Regions from separate parts of the Homo sapiens genome. Here region 1 is linked to region 2. A link means that fine-mapping ties the variant in region 2 to the expression of a gene that starts in the linked region. Tissue or cell type: sun-exposed skin. Region 2 holds a variant in brackets; the other region holds the start of a gene. All regions are shown on one strand. Distances are from middle to middle.

Region 1 (8,092 bases), 210 kb before region 2:
TGATATCTCCTCGTGCTATCCCCAAACTGCCACTCTTAACTCTTGAAGTAAATAAATAATCTTTGCTGGCAGGACTATGCTGAATCTCCTTAGGCACTCTCTAATCAGATGTCCTAGGTCCTCCCAATTCTTAGACCTTTTATACCTGTTTTTCTCCTTCTCTTATTCCACTTAGTTTTTCAATTCATACAAAACCATATCCAGGCCATCACCAATCATTCTATACGACAAATGTTTCTTCTAACATCCCCACAAGATCTCCCTTCGGCTTAATCTCTCCCACTCTAGGTTCCCACGCCGCCCCTAATCCCACTTGAAGCAGCCCTGAGAAACATCGCCCATTCTCTCTCCATACCACCCCACAAAAATTTTCGCTGCCCCAACACTTCAACACTATTTTGTTTTATTTTTCTTATTAATATAAGAAGGCAGGAATGTCAGGCCTGAGCCCAAGCCAAGCCATCGCATCCCCTATGACTTGCACGTACACATCCAGATGGCCTGACGTAACTGAAGATCCACAAAAGAAGTAAAAATAGCCTTAACTGATGACATTCCACCATTGTGATTTGTTTCTGCCCCACCCTAACTGATCAATGTACTTTGTAATCTCCCCCACCCTTAAGAAGGTTCTTCGTAATTCTCCCCACCCTTGAGAATGTACTTTGTGAGATCCATCCCTGCCCGCAAAACATTGCTCTTAACTTCACCGCCTATCCCAAAACCTGTAAGAACTAATGATAATCCACCACCCTTTGCTGACTCTCTTTTCGGACTCAGCCTGCCTGCATCCAGGTGAAATAAACAGCCATGTTGCTCACACAAAGCCTGTTTGGTAGTCTCTTCACACGGACGCGCATGAAACCTATATCAAATCAAGCCTCTTAAGACACCAAAACACCGATTTCACCTAGTACAGAAGGAATGAGGGCCTGATAACTGCAGAAATTTAAACTTCTTCGGCTGGGCTGGGCGTGGTAGCTCAAGCCTGTAATCCCAACACTTTGGAGGGAGCTGAGGCAGGTGGCTCACTTGAGGTCAAGAGTTTGACAACAGCCTGGCCAACATGGTGAAACCCCATCTCTACTAAAAATACAAAAATGAGCCAGGTGTAGTGGCACATACCAGTAGTCCCAGCTACTTGGGAGGCTGAGGATGGAGAATTGCTTGCACCTAAGCAACGGAAGTTGCAGTGAGCCGAGATTGTGCCACTGCATTCCAGCCTGGGTGACAGTGCAAGACTCTGTCTCAAATAAATAAATAAATAAAATAAACTTCTTGGGCTGGAAATTGGAGACTTGGTAGAATCTGGTCTTAACTTCCCAGCCTTATCTTCCCTCATTCCCAAACACCTCTGTTACTGTGTGCCCCAAACAGGTTTGCTCTCTCCACATCACCATCTAGTGTTTTTTTTTTTCCAACTTTTCCCATTATTTAATGGCTAGCTCAAATGGAGTATCCTCAATGAATCATCTCTTCCCCCATCCCCAGTTCCCTAAAGAGAATGCCGGCGTTTTAGCACTGCCTTGTATCTTTTTTTTTTTTTTTTTTGGAGACGGAGTCTCGCTCTGTCACCGAGGCTGGAGTGCAGTGGCACAATCCCAGCTCACTGCAAGCTCCACCTCTCGGGTTCACACCATTCTCCTGCCTCAGCCTCCCGTGTAGCTGGGACTACAGGCGCCCGCCACTACGCCTGGCTATTTTTTTGTATTTTTTAGTAGAGACGGGGTTTCACTGTGTTAGCCAGGATGGTCTCGATCTCCTGACCTCGTGATCCACCCGCCTCGGCCTCCCAACGTGCTGGGATTACAGGAGAGTTCTTCATCCACTCCAGCATCACCTCCATCCAACTAAAGGCAAAATCTTCTTAAACTTCCTAACTCCTATAACACCCCACGTAGCAGGTACTCATTAAACATTGATTGATTGATCATGGTGGGACTTGAAAGAAGACTGAAGTCATCAAGAGATGGTTTGTGAGAAAAGAGAATCTGAGATGGGTTTTCAAGCATTTAGTTGAGGAAACGGGAGCAGGGCTTCCAGGTAAGGAGAGCAACGTGTATTGGTAAACCAAGAACATCAGACTGAGTAGAGCAGGAAAACGTAGAAGCCACAGAGAAAAAGGCCTGGAACAACCAAGGCCAGATTACAGGCAACAGTGGAATGATTTGATTCAACACAAGTGCGCTTCTGGGAGCAGAATGGACTGAGGAGAGGTGAGGACGGGAGAGACCTGGGTCTCTGGGCCAAGCAGAGGCTTCTGCAACAATTCAGGCAAACGTGGGGTGACAAGGACGCTGACTGAGACGATGCTGAACCCCAACTGCTGGTTTGTTCAACTGGTACAGTTCACATTAAGTCGTAACAACTGTGAAGCTTATGTCTCTACAGATACCATGTGACTCCCCCCCACCAAGTGTGTCCCTCTCATTTCATAATGTGACTCTAGGCTGGGTGCGGTAGCTCACGTGTGTAATCCCAGCGCTTTGTAAGGGAAAGGTGGGAGGATCACTTGAACTCGAGTTTGAGACCATCCTGGGCAACACAGCAAGACCTCATCTCTACTAAAAATCAAAAGAATTAGCCAAGCATGGTGGCGTGTGCCTATAGTCCCAGCTACTCAGGAGGCTGAGGTAGAAGACTTATTTGAGCACAGGGGTTCAAGGCTGCAGTGAGCTATGATCGCACCCCTGCACTCCAGCCTAGACAACAGCGCGCGAGACTCTGTCTCAAAAACAAGTAACAAAAACAAAATGTAACTCTAAATGTAGCCTATTAAACTCAGCTTAGGTCATTTAAATTATTCAATACCCATATTAATACCTTCAAAGCAAACTAATTCCACTCTGGTTATAGCAAGTTGGGCATTTCTGGGCAAGTGGTTTGACTGGAGTCAGGATGTCCTCTTTTTGTGAAATTATGGCAGTAGTGCCTGCTTTGCTAGAATACTTGGTAAACTAATTTAATGAATATCTGTAAAGTACTTTGAGCTCCTTGGAGAACACTTCCATATATAAAGAAGCCTTATGACCTGCCTGCAACTGCAGATTTTGCAAACGTGATCTTACTTTTTCTCTCTTTTGGGATATGCTCCCCTTTAAACTGAAGCTCAACCTCCTGAAGGGGGTTTCTTACTAGGAAAAATCAGACAATTTGAGGAAATAGCTATCACCTCCAAGATCCCGGAAGCAGTACTAAATAAGAGACCTCAGAACAAGGCAATACTAGGTATCTCACCTATCCCATTACCAGTCCAATTTCTCTCTCCACTTAAAGGAGGCTTCCAGGTCTAGCCTACAGGAAAGTTCACTTATTAACCCTCAGGCAGAGTACTACCTGCTAACCAGGTTAACACACATTTCCTTCGTAGCACTGTAATTCACAGTGCAATGACAGCAATACGCTTCTATAACTACAGCTTCAGACTGTGCTCCTCAGCCTTACTCAGAATAGGCTATCAACACTGACTCGTTAGGATATTCAAGGGGGTATATGTATGTGTGTGGGGGGGGAATTCCCGACACCGATTTCACCATGCTTCTGTGGTCACTGCAGGAAAAAGGTAGAGCTCTCTGTTCTCTATCATCGCTCTCTTTGGAATATTATTCTCACTTCAAGCATTCTGCCTGAGCGAAGCCGTCACTTCTCCAACACATGGTCACAATTCTGAAGCTGCCAGGCGACTGAACGCAGTCGGCAGCACCCACCACTACCGGAGACTCAGCCCCAATCCGAAGCTTCTCCCTTAGTCAGGGATTGGGGCGCTGGGTTCCTGGTGTCACCGCCGGGCGGCGACCCCACCACAATCTCCCCAAAGCGCCGAAGCATGTCAGCCCGAAGATCTTGGCTGTCGCCTTTCCCCGAGCCTGCGGTGCCCGACAGGAGCCCGAGTTCACGCCGCCGCGCGCCAGAGCAAGAGGACGCGCCGCAGCGAGGGAAGCGGGGGCCGGACTGGGGCCCGGCGCCCTGATAGGGAAGGGGCGTGATCGCAGGCTGCTCGCGGCGAGGGCGAGACCGGGCGTGGGCTGCCAAGAGGCGACGCCGTGGAGCCCGGGGAGGGGACGTGGGGGTGAAGACAGGGGCAGCCCAGCGGCTCGAGGGCAGGCAGAAACGGCCGCGGCTACTCACTGAGCCAGGACTCCAGGCTTTCCCCTTCCGCCTCCGCCATATTGCAGCCGCCCGGCCCCGCGGCTTCAAAACTCGCGAGAGTCTGCACGAGCTGAGACGGGGCGGGGCCTGCATGGGGTCCTGAGAGGAGTGAGTGCCGTCACCGAGGGCCGCGCCAGACTGCGACGGATACAGGGAGGGCAAGGGTTTCCTTTTGGCGCTCCCCTTTGGACCCCGGAGTGAAAAACTCTAACGTCCAGATCAGTGGAGAGAAACGCAGATTTAGGACCCTGAGGAGTCTTTTTCACCCGTTTCCCGTCACTCGCTCAGGCGCGCCGAGGGCAGTCCTTGTGGGGTCCTCGTGGCCAGCCAAGATGGCTGCCCCCGCAGTGAAGGTTGCCCGAGGATGGTCGGGCCTGGCGTTGGGCGTGCGGCGGGCTGTCTTGCAGCTTCCAGGGTGAGAGGGTGGCGAGCAGCGGCGGGGGGGCGCTGCGAGGAAGGAAGGGGGCCACAGGCAGGCCGCGTGGGCCCCTAGAGAGAGCATTGCCCTGGGGGCCGGAGTATCTGGATTCAAGCTTCTAAGTTAGCTGCGTGACCCTGCGCCAATCCGAAGGTTTAGTGACTACCTCTCGCCTAAGGAGTCTGGCTGATCTAGGGTTCTAACGCGGAGCTGAAAGTGCGGTTCAGCTAAAGAGCTCAGATCTGGGATCGCCTGTGAATTGGGATGGGTGTGTAGGCGCCAAGCCCATCCTTACCGTTAGCACTTGACCAGGAGGAGACTTTACCCGCCTGCTTGGGGAATGTCCTCCTACTTGGGACAAGGGCCTGAATTGTTGTGGCTCAGGTTTAGCTCGCGGTCTCCGCGCCGCTCCCCCTCGTCGGCGCGTTGGCAGTCATGCCTATTGTTAAGTCAAACCTACTCGCTTGTGGAGTCAGCTTTTGCCTGCCTCCTCCTTTCCCCCCCTCCCAGGCTAACTCAGGTGAGATGGAGCCGCTATAGTCCTGAATTCAAGGATCCCTTGATTGACAAGGAATATTATCGCAAGCCAGTGGAGGAGCTAACTGAGGAGGAGAAATATGTTCGGGAGCTCAAGAAGACTCAGCTCATCAAAGCTGCTCCAGCAGGGAAAACAAGTTCTGTGTTTGAAGACCCAGTCATCAGGTTAGATGGAAACAAACACTTGTTACATGGACTGGGACTATCCCAGGGAGGGTTTCTGGTGAGGATTCTGTGATACAGCCTTGGAGAGCTAAACGTGTTGCTTTTCTCTTTGAAGTAAATTCACCAACATGATGATGATAGGAGGAAACAAAGTACTGGCCAGATCCCTCATGATTCAGGTAAACAGCACTTCCCTCCTCAGTCATCTTTCTTGCCCCCCTACCCCGTAGCCTTGTACTTGGTACTTTCAGTGTAGCTTAAGAGCAAATGGATTCATGTATCTATTATTCAGATTAACTTCCCTGCATGTGTACGGGCTTTAATGAAGCCCTGTAAGAGTCAGCAACTGCCATTCCTTGGTGTTTCGGAAGTAAACACACAATTAAAAAAAAAGGAACAAATAAAAAATAAAACAACTGCCATTCCCCACCTCACCCCCCACCCCCTCCATGCCACAAATCTCAATCCACTCTTTCTGTCCTAGTCTAGCAAAGGGGGAGGCACTTAAAAACTTTGTTTTGGATGTGCTGTGAGAGGAGCTGCATTGCCAGCGCAGAACCAGAGGATGGGAGTAAAGGGCAAGGTACTAGCTTGGCTGGGTAAACCCTTTAGGGAGCCTGGGGCAGCCTCTTCCACCATATTCTTTTGCAGACTCTGGAAGCTGTGAAAAGGAAGCAGTTTGAGAAGTACCATGCCGCTTCTGCAGAGGAACAGGCAACCATCGAACGCAACCCCTACACCATCTTCCATCAAGCACTGAAAAACTGTGAGCCTATGATTGGGCTGGTACCCATCCTCAAGGGAGGCCGTTTCTACCAGGTGAATGAATGGCCAGGGCAAGAAAGCAGGGCCCTCCACATGTGAAACAAGATAGGTGGTGCTTGGGAGTTGGGTCAAGATTGATAGCTTTCTAGCTGGTGCAGTGGGATTGCACCTGTAATCTCAGCACTTTGGGAGCCTAATGCAGGATAGCTTGAGCTCAGGAGTTAAGAGACAGCAGGGCAACATAGGGAGATCCCGTCTCTACAAAAAAAACAAAAAAATTAGCCAGGTGTGGTGGTGTGCATCTGTGCTCCCAACTACTCAGGAGGCTGAGGTAGGAGGATCACTTGAGTCCAGGAGGTCAAGGCTGCAGTGAGTTATGATTACGCCCCTGCATTCCAGCCTGGGCAAGAGAGAGAAACCTTGTCTCAGAAAAAAAAAAAAAAAAAACGGCTGGGCACGGTGGCTCACACCTGTAATCCCAGCACTTTGGGAGGCCGAGGTGGATGGATTACCTGAGGTGGGGAGTTCGAGATCAACAAGGAGAAACCCTGTTTCTACTAACAATACAAAATTAGCCAGGTGTGGTGGCACATACCAGTAGTCCCAGCTACTTGGGAGGCTGAAGCAGGAGAATCGCTTGAACCCAGGATGCAGAGGTTGCAGTGAGCCGAGAGCACACCACCGCACTCCAGCCTGGCAACAGAGCAAGACGCCATCTCAAAAAAAAAAAAAAAAAAAGAATTGAGACTGTTACGGTCCACTCATCTGAGTCCTGTAGCGTAAAAATTATAGGCAGAAGGTGGAAGAGAGTGAAGAAGTATCTAAGTGACATCTGGGAGCCCACCTCCCTTCGCCTTCTTCTGTCAAGCATCCTGTGTGTCCTAACCTGTAAAATTCTCATGGCGAGGGACTATTCATATCCTGTCTTTGTATGCCAGTGTTTGGCATAGTGCTTGACCGATAACTGATGCTTCATCAGTGTTTGCTGAACAGTACTAGGTATCTCTTTCATAGCATTTAATTATATTTTATTGTCCTGAGTTTTCTTGTGTTCTCCTTTTTCAATATCAACTCCATGGGGTAGGGACTTCATTATTGTCTGCACTCTCGTGTCTGGCATGGTACTGACGCATAGTGAGGGCCTGACAAATGATTTTTGGACACGGGGTCTTGTTTTTGGTTTTCTTTAACTGTTTGTATAGGGTCTTTTTGTTTTTAACTTTTTTTTTTTTTTTTGAGATGGAGTTTCGCTTTTGTTGCCCAGACTGGAGTGCAGTGCTGTAATCTCAGCTCTCGGCTCACTGCAGCCTCCGCCTCCCGGGTTCAAGAGATTCTCCTGTCTCAGTCCCTGCCCACCCCAAGTAGCTGGGATTACAGGTGGCCGCCACCATGCCCAGCTAATTTTTTTGTATTTTTAGTAGAGACAGGGTTTTGCTGTGTCTGAAGACTGAAGGGGTCTTGTTTTTAGGTACCTATGGTCTGAGGTGGATTAGTCACCCCAGCTAATGGGGCTTTTCCTATTTGGTTCTTATAACAACTTGGTAGGACTACCATTTAGGAGGGAAAATGGCCAGTGCTTTTCTTCTTTTTCTTTTTCTTTTTTTTTGAGACGAAGTCTCGCTCTGTTGCCCAGGCTGGAGTGCAGTGGTGCATTCTTGGCTCACTGCAACCTCCGTCTCCTGGGTTCAAGCATTTCTACCTCAGCCTCCCAAGTAGCTGGGATTACAGGCGCCTGCCACCACGCCCAGCTAATTTTTGCATTTTAGTAGAGACGAGGTTTCACCACATTGGCCAGGCTGGTGTCGAAATCCTGACCTCAGGTAATCCACCTGCCTCAGCCTCCCAAAGTGCTGGAATTACAGGCGTGAACCATCGTGCCTGGCCTTCTTTTTTTTTTAATATATGGAGACAGGGTCTTGTTATATTGACGAGGCTGGTCTTGAACTCCTGGGCTCAAGCGATCCTCCTGCCTCAGCCTCCCAAAGTGCTGGGATTACAGGTGTGAACCACAGTGCCGGGAGAGGCCAGTGCTTAATTAGTATTTGCTGAATGAACGCC
Region 2 (8,099 bases):
GTGGCACATACCTGTGATCCTAGCTACTCGGGAGGCTGAGGTGGGAGGATCACTTGAGCCTGGGAAGTTGAGGTACAGTGAGCTGTGATCGCACCACTGTACTCCAGGCTGGGCAATAGGGTGAGGCCTTGTCTCAAACAAACAAACAAACAAACCTGGGGCCTACTCAGAAACCCAGACTCTTCAGTGACTCCTCAGAGCCTCTCCATTTTGGCCCCTTATCCCTGTGTATTTTTTCATTTTCTTTCTTTCTTTCTTTCCTTCCTTTCTTTCTTTCCTTCCTTCCTTCCTTCCTTCCTTCCTTCCTTCCTTCCTTCCTTCCTTCCTTCCTTCTTTCTTTCTTTCTTTCTTTCTTTCTTTCCTCTTTTCTTTCTTTCTTGAGACGGAGTTTCACTCTTGTTGCCCAGGATGGAGTGCGATGGCATGATCTCAGCTCACTGCAACCTCCGCCTCCTGAGTTCATGCGATTCTCCTGCCTCAGCCTCCCAAGTAGCTGGGACTACAGGTGCAGTCGGCTGATTTTTGTATTTTTAGTGGAGATGGGGTTTCTCCATGTTGGTCAGGCTGGTCTTGAACTCCCGACCTCAGGTGATCCACCCACCTCAGCTTCCCAAAGTGCTGGGATTACAGGCATGAGCCACTGCACCCGGCTCTTTTTGTTGTTGTTGTTAGAGACAGGGTCTCACTCCGTTTCCCAGGCTGGAGTGTAGTGGCGTGATCATAGCTCCCTGCAGCCTTGAACTCCTGGTCTCAAGATCCTCCTGCGTCAGCCATATTCTCAGTCTTTTTCATTTTAGTCGTTCTAATGGGTGTGTATTGGTCTCTCGTTGTGGTTTTAAATTTTTTTGTAAGACAGGGTCTTGCTATGTTGCCCAGGCTAGTCTCCAACTCTTGGCCTCAAGTCATCCTCCCCCGTCAGCCTCCCAAAGTGCTGAAATTACAGGCGTGAGCCACCATGCCTGGCCTTCTCATTGTGGTTTTAATTTTTGTTTCCCAATAATTAATGTTGTTGACCATCTTTTCATATTCATATTGACTGTTTATATATCTTGTGAAATGTCTGTTCAAATCTCTGCCTGTTTATTATTTATTTATTTATTTTAAGACAAGTTCTCACTTTGTTGCCCAGGCTGGAGTGCAGTGGCGAGATCATGGCTCACTGCAACCTCCAACTCTTGAGCTCAAGTGATCCTCCTGCCTCAGCCTCCCAAGTAGCTAAGACTGCAGGTGTGTGCCAACATGCCTGGCTGAAATCTTTGCTCATTTTAAAATTGGGTTGTTGGTCTTGTTACTGAGCTATAAGAATTTTTATATATATATATATATATATATATTTTTTTTTAATCCCAAAGACTTCAAAACTACTTTTGCTTTTTGAGACGTGATTTTGGTATGTTGCTCAGGCTAGACTCAAACTCTTGGCCTCTAGTGATCTGTCTGCCTCAGCCTCCCAAAGTGCTAGGATTATAGGCATGAACCACTGTGCCCAACGTCAATTTTTTTATGGCATATTTTGAAGAGTGGAAATTTTTTTTATTTTTATGGAACAATTTATCAGTTGTTTTCTTTTATTTGTTTGTTTGTTTTTTAGAGGCAGGATCTTACTCTGTTGCCTAGACTGGAGTGAAGTGGCACAATCATAGTTCACTGTAACCTTCAACTCCTAGGCTCATGTGATTCCCCTACCTCAGCCTCACAAGTAGTTAGGACTACAGGCGTGCTCCACCAGACCTGGCTAAAGTTGCTGTCTTTTATAGTTTATGTTTTTTATGTTTTAAGAAATCTTTGCTTATCCCAAGTTATAAAGATTCCTGCCTCCACCCCTCCTGCATATTTTCTTCTGGAAGTATTATAGTTTTAACCTTTATGTTTAGATGTGTGATGCATTTTAAGTTAATTTTTGTATATGGTATGAAGTAAGGGTCAATATGTGTGAATCTAGTGCTAGACTCTCTGTTCTGTCCCATTGATTTGTATGCCTCTCCTTGTATCAGTACCACATGTTTTGATTACTGTAGCTGTATGTTAAATCTTCAAATCAGGTAGTGTAAGTCCTCAGAATTTGTTTCTCTTTTCAAAATTGTTTTGCCTATTCTTGGTCCTTTATCTTTCCATACAAATTTTAGAATCAGCTTGCCAATTTCTATGGAAGTCCCAGCTGGGACTTTCATTAACATTGTATTGAGAGGCTGGGCATGGTGGCTCATGCCTGTAATCCCAGCACTTTGGGAGGCCGAGGCAGGTGGGATCACCTGGGGTCAGGAGTTCAAGACCAGCCTGGCCAACATGGTGAAACCCCGTCTCTACTAAAAATGCAAAAAATTAGCCGGCCATGGTGGTGGACACCTGTAATCCCAGCTGTTCGGGAGGCTGAGGCAGGAGAATCACTTGAACCCAGGAGGCAGAGGTTGCAGTGAGCTGAGATTGTGCCATTGCACTCCAGCCTGGGCAACAGGAGTGGGAAAAAAAAAATTGTATTAAATCTATAAATTAGGGGATAATTGCCATCTTAATACTGAGCCTTCCAATCCATGAACATTGTATATTTCCCCATTTATTTAAGTCTTCTTTAATTTTTCTCAGCAGTGTACAGGTCTTACATATATTTTTATTAGAATAATTTCTAAAGGTTTTTTTTTTTTTTTGAGACTGAGTTTTGTTCTTGTCACCCAGGCTGGAGTGCAATGATGTGATCTCGGCTCACTGCAACCTCTGCCTCCCGGGTTCAAGTGATTCTCCTGCCTCAGCCTCCCAAGCAGCTGGGATTACAGGCACCCAAAACCACGCCTGGCTAATTTTTGTATTTTTAGTAGAGATGGGGTTTCACCATGTTGTCCAGGTTGGTCTGGAACTCCTGTCCTCAGGTGATCCACCCACCTCAGCCTCCCAAAGTGCTGGGGTTACAGGTGTGAGCCACCGTACCCAGCCATGCTGTTTTTATACTATTATAAATGATATTAAAATTTTTATTTTCTGATATTTGATTATAGTATATAGAAATATATTTATATTTTGTATTTTGACCCTATATCCTGCAGCTTTGCACCTTTATTTGTTTTAGTATCTTATTTGTAGAGTCCCTAATATTTTCTCCATATACAATTGATCTTGTCTTCTGCAAATAAGACAGTTTCACTTATTTTTTCCCATCATTATGCCATCCATTTCTTTTTCTTTTTTTTTTTTTTTTTTTTTTTGAGACGGAGTCTCGCTCTGTCGCCCAGGCCGGACTGCGGACTGCAGTGGCGCAATCTCGGCTCACTGCAAGCTCCGCTTCCCGGGTTCACGCCATTCTCCTGCCTCAGCCTCCCGAGTAGCTGGGACTACAGGCGCCCGCCACCGCGCCCGGCTAATTTTTTGTATTTTTAGTAGAGACGGGGTTTCACCTTGTTAGCCAGGATGGTCTCGATCTCCTGACCTCGTGATCCACCCGCCTCGGCCTCCCAAAGTGCTGGGATTACAGGCGTGAGCCACCGCGCCCGGCCCCATTTCTTTTTCTTCCACCTTGCTTTTGAGTCCTTATTCTTCACCTAAGTGGCACTTGGTTCATATTTTTTGCTTGCTGCTGATAGTAATGGCAGTTGTTTATTGAGTACCTACTATATGTCAAATATTATACTAGACCCCCTGCATATACTATTTTTCATAATTCTATAGCTCCTCTGTGAAATAGATATTGTCATTTCCATTCTATGAACAAAGACACTGAGGCTCAGAGGGACAAATAATTTGCCAAGGTCATTGGCGTTTGAGACATACTGGAGCTAGGATTTGAACCCGGGGATATTTGGCTTTGAATCCTGTGCTTTTTTTCACAATGGGCTAGGAGCAGAACTGGCCCTTTAAAGACCCTGCTACGGGTTTCAGATCAGACAGTTAAGAATGGCTGTCTCCCAGAATCCCATGTATGGAATGATGGGAAAACAGAGACTCTTAGAAAAATGTCCTGTTCCTGGCTGCCCTCTCTGTACTGCTGTGGTTCCAGCTGGCCACAGAGTGATTTTGCCTTTG[C/T]AGCGTTGGCAGAAGGAGTTAACAGGCACAGTCCCCATCTGGCTCCTGGTGTTTTTCCCTGTGTGGCAACGATCTCATCCAGCCCCTGCTGGGATGGGGTGTCATGGGGACCTTGAGCTGCAGTCGTAAGCAGGACTGGGGCAGCCTGAGTCAGACAGTGGCCTTGGGGAGGAGTGGATTTGGTCCCTCAGGATCCCATTTCAGTTGGCGACCAAAGACTGAATGTCACTGCATTGCAAGGCCACTTCCAGCGTCACTGTCTGTATCTGAGCCTTCGAGGCTGGCTCAGCTTTGAAAGGCAGGGGTGGAAGAGACGTGGTTGCTCAGCCTAGGGCACCAGCATGGGTGCCACCTTGAGAGGAATTGGGCGGGGTTTTGGAGTGGAGTTGGTGGCAGAACCTGGGCCTTCTGGTTGGGTCCTCCGGACACAGCTTTTATTATTTCTTGACAGCTTTTTTCTGGGTCAGTTCTGGGTTTCTGCCTGGCACCCCTTGACAAGGCTTGCTCCTGGCCCCCAAAAGAGCTGTCTTAGTCAGTAGGTTAGTGCTTTCTCCAAGAGGAGTCGCTTGGCATCAAACCAGATTGCTCAGTGTCACTCTTTACTCAAACACACCCTGGTCTGAGATCATTAGAGTGACGGCTGCCAGGACGGGAGGGTGAGGGCTGGTGAGGGTAGGTGGGGAGGTAGGGCAAACCTCATTTTCCAGGTAACCAGCCCGCTTTTGTCGGACCTGTTGTCAGATTGGGCTGCCCATCGTGTGTTCATCTGCTCAGGTGCCTGTTGAGCACTGCACTCAACCACGTGAGGGGCTGCGGGCTTGCACATGCTGGTGAGTGTGGCGTCTGACTGCCAGCACGTGGAAAGAAGTCAGTGCCTCGTTCTGGGGATGCAGTGGACATCCACCCTGCTGCTGTCCCAGCTGCCCCCTTATTATCCAACTTACATATCTAGATTTCACTTGATGTTAAGGCTAACCTTAACCCTAAATTTTTTTTTTTTTTTTTTGAGACCGAGTCTCACTTTGTCGCCCGACTGGAGTGCAGTGGCGCAATCTCAGCTCACTGGAACCTCTGCCTCCCAGGCTCAAGTGATTCTCCTGCCTCAGCCTCCTGAGTAGCTGGGATTACAGGCGCCCACCACCACGCCTGGCTAATTTTTGTATTTTTAGTAGAGATGGGGTTTCATCATATTGGCCAGGCTGGTCTGGAACTCCTGACCTCAAGTGATCTGCCTGCCTCGGCCTCCCAAAGTGCTGGGATTGCAGGCGTGAGCCACTGTGCTCGGCCTTAACCCTAAATTTTTAAAATGCTGACTGGGTGTAGTGGCTCATGCCTGAAATCTCAGCACTTTGAGAAGCCGAGGCGGGCAGATCACTTGAGGTCAGGAGCTCATGACCAGCCTGAGCAACATAGCAAGACCCCATCTCTACCAAAGAAGTAGTGATAATAAATAAAAATGCCAATAAATCCTTTGGGAGGCCGAGGTGGGTGGATCACCTGAGGTCGGGAGTTTGAGACGAGCCTGACCAACATGGTGAAACCCCGTCTCTAGTAAAAATACAAAAATTAGCTGGGCGTGGTGGCACATGCCTGTAATCCCAGCTACTCAGGAGTCTGAGGCAGGAGAATCGCTTGAACCCAGGAGGCAGAGGTTGCAGTGAGCCGAGATCATGCCATTGTGCTCCATCCTGGGCAATAAGAGTGAAACTCCGTCTCAAACAAAAAAAGCCAATAAACCAAGGCTTTTCCTGCATGCTGTAATTCAGTGATAAACAGAGTACATATGGAACAAAACACAGTGTGCCTTTGAAAATGAAGGTTGAGGCTGGGCACAGTGATTCACGCCTGTAGCCTGTAGTCCCAGAACTTTTAAGAGGCTGAGGTGGGGAGGATTGCTTGAGGCCAGGAGGTCAAGACCAACCTGGGCAACATAGCAAGACCCCTTCTCCACACAAAATTAAAAAAAATAATAATAGGCTGGGCGTGGTGGCTCATGCTTGTAATCCCAGTACTTTGAGAGGCCGAGGCAGGTGGATCACTTGAGGTCAGGAGTTCAAGACCAGCCTGGCTGAGCATGGTGGCTCACGCCTGTAATCCCAGCACTTTGGGAGGCCAAGACAGGCGGATCATGAGGTCAGGAGATCGAGACCATCCTGGCTAACACGGTGAAACCCCATCTCTACTAAAAATACAAAAAATTAGCCGGGCGTGGTGGCGGGCGCCTGTAGTCCCAGCTACACAGGAGGCTGAGGCAGGAGAATGGCGTGAACCCGGGAGGTGGAGCTTGCAGTGAGCCGAGATCGCGCCACTGCACTCCAGCCTGGGCGACAGAGCGAGACTCTGTCTCAAAAAAAAAAAAAAGTCCAGCCTGACCAACATGGTGAAACCCTGTCTCAACTAAAAGTACAAAAATTAGCCGGGGATGCTGGTGCATGCCTGTAATCCCAGCTACTTGAGGGGCTGAGACAGGAGAATCACTTGAGCCCAGGAAGTGGAGGTTGCAGTAAGCAAAGGTTGCGCCACTGCACTCCAGCCTGGGCAACAGAGCGAGACTCTGTCTCAAAATAATAATAATAATAATAATAATAAAGAAAATGAAGGTCAGGCGCGGTGGCTCACGCCTGTAATCCCAACACTTTGGGAGGCTGAGGCGGGTGGATCACAAGGTCAGGAGTTCAAGACCAGCCTGGCCAATATGGTGAAACCCCGTCTTTACTAAAAATACAAAAATTAGCCGGGCGTGGTGGCAAGTGCCTGTGATCCCAGCTACTTGGGAGGCTGCAGCAGGGAATTGCTGGAACCCAGGAGGTGGAGGTTGCAACAATGAGCCAAGATCGGGTCATAGCACTCCAGCCTGGGCAACAGAGTGAGAATCCGTCTCAAAAAAAAAAAAAAAAGAAAGAAAGAAAGAAAGAAAATGAAGGGTGAAAGAGAGAAAGTTTGTACCCCTCCAGAATCCTCTCTGTAGCCCTCTCCCTCCTGGATTCAGAGAGTGGAATTCATCTAGAGCTGACTGCCTGGGGGAAGCTCTGCTGCTCGATGAGGCTGACTCTGTCTGATGGTCAGTGAGTTCAGTACTTTTCCGCGTACCATACTGTGGTTTAGATGATACTATTATGTTGGGTGGCTGAGGCGGGCAGATCACTTGAGGTCAGGAGTTTGAGACCAGCCTGGCTAACATGGCAAAACCCTGTCTCTACTGAAAAATACAAAATTAGCTGGGCATGGTGATGCACGCCTGTCATCCCAGCTACTCGGAAGCAAGAGAATCGCTTGAACCCAGGAGACAGAGTTTGCAGTGAGCCGAGATCGCGCCACTGCACTCCAGCCTGGGCGACAGAGTGAGACTCCGTCTCAAAAAAAAAAAAAAATGATGCTGTTGTGTTTCACAGTAGCTGCCTGTTCCAGCAACCTGAGTGATTTCTTTCTTCTTTTTCCCCAGATGTTGTGACTGTGACAGACTCACTGGGGTTTGTACATGCTGGGGAGGAGCCTTCCTTTCAGGGGTGACCACATTCATCTGGGCATGCCTGCAGTACTCTTGGCCCATGGACCTGAAGGAGAAGCACCTGGTAGGCCATATCCTATTACCTTATAGGTATTGTCTGTGTGTCTCTGTTGAACTCTTTCCTACTTGTTTTTGCCTGGGAGATCCTTAACTGGGGGCTTTAAACAAAAGTTGAGAGAGGAGGCAAGGCTCTGAGTCTTGGGGGATGCGACTGTGACCTCTTGGCTGGAAAGCACAGACTCACAGAGCTATGAATAAAGGATGAAGGTGGACCTATTAACACAACCGCATGGGAGCAGGGTTTCTGATTTAGGCTGGCTCCAAGCCAGTCTTCCACTTCTTGCCCAGGGGTGTGCAATTTAGTTTGTTTGCCCTTTGCTAGGGCGATGTCCTAACCTGCTGAGCCATGCTGAGGGCTATTGGGCACCTCCCTGTGGTTAGAGAAGAGCGCCCCAATCAGACTTCAAACACAGCTGCCTAATCAGCCGGTGGTGAGCAGCCAGGTGGCCTGGGCCAGCCATAAGATTGGTCTTCTCCTCCCAGCCTGGTTTGGCCCAGCCTCCATGTATACTATCTTTGG

Evidence for each region. PIP is the estimated chance that this variant, and not a neighbour inherited with it, causes the effect.
Region 1: MRPS7 starts here. The variant in region 2 is fine-mapped to the expression of MRPS7 in sun-exposed skin (GTEx, PIP 0.98).

What each region holds. Positions count from the first base shown.
Region 1 is chr17:75,257,420-75,265,511 of GRCh38, forward strand. MRPS7 (mitochondrial ribosomal protein S7) reads left to right here and starts at 4,460. Exons shown (of 5, transcript NM_015971.4): 1 at 4,460-4,564; 2 at 5,078-5,269; 3 at 5,385-5,448; 4 at 5,921-6,088. The coding sequence starts at 4,482. GGA3 (golgi associated, gamma adaptin ear containing, ARF binding protein 3) reads right to left here and starts at 4,187. Exons shown (of 17, transcript NM_138619.4): 1 at 4,129-4,187. The coding sequence starts at 4,168. RefSeq lists enhancers at 3,593-3,692, 4,163-4,572, 4,369-5,246.
Region 2 is chr17:75,464,347-75,472,445 of GRCh38, forward strand. It overlaps TMEM94 (transmembrane protein 94), which reads left to right. Exons shown (of 32, transcript NM_014738.6): 2 at 7,454-7,583. The coding sequence starts at 7,560. Among named protein-coding and RNA genes, the nearest start is that of TMEM94, 12 kb to the left of the region's middle. RefSeq lists silencers at 4,333-4,501, 7,881-7,970. The variant C/T (reference allele first, on the strand shown) is at 4,012.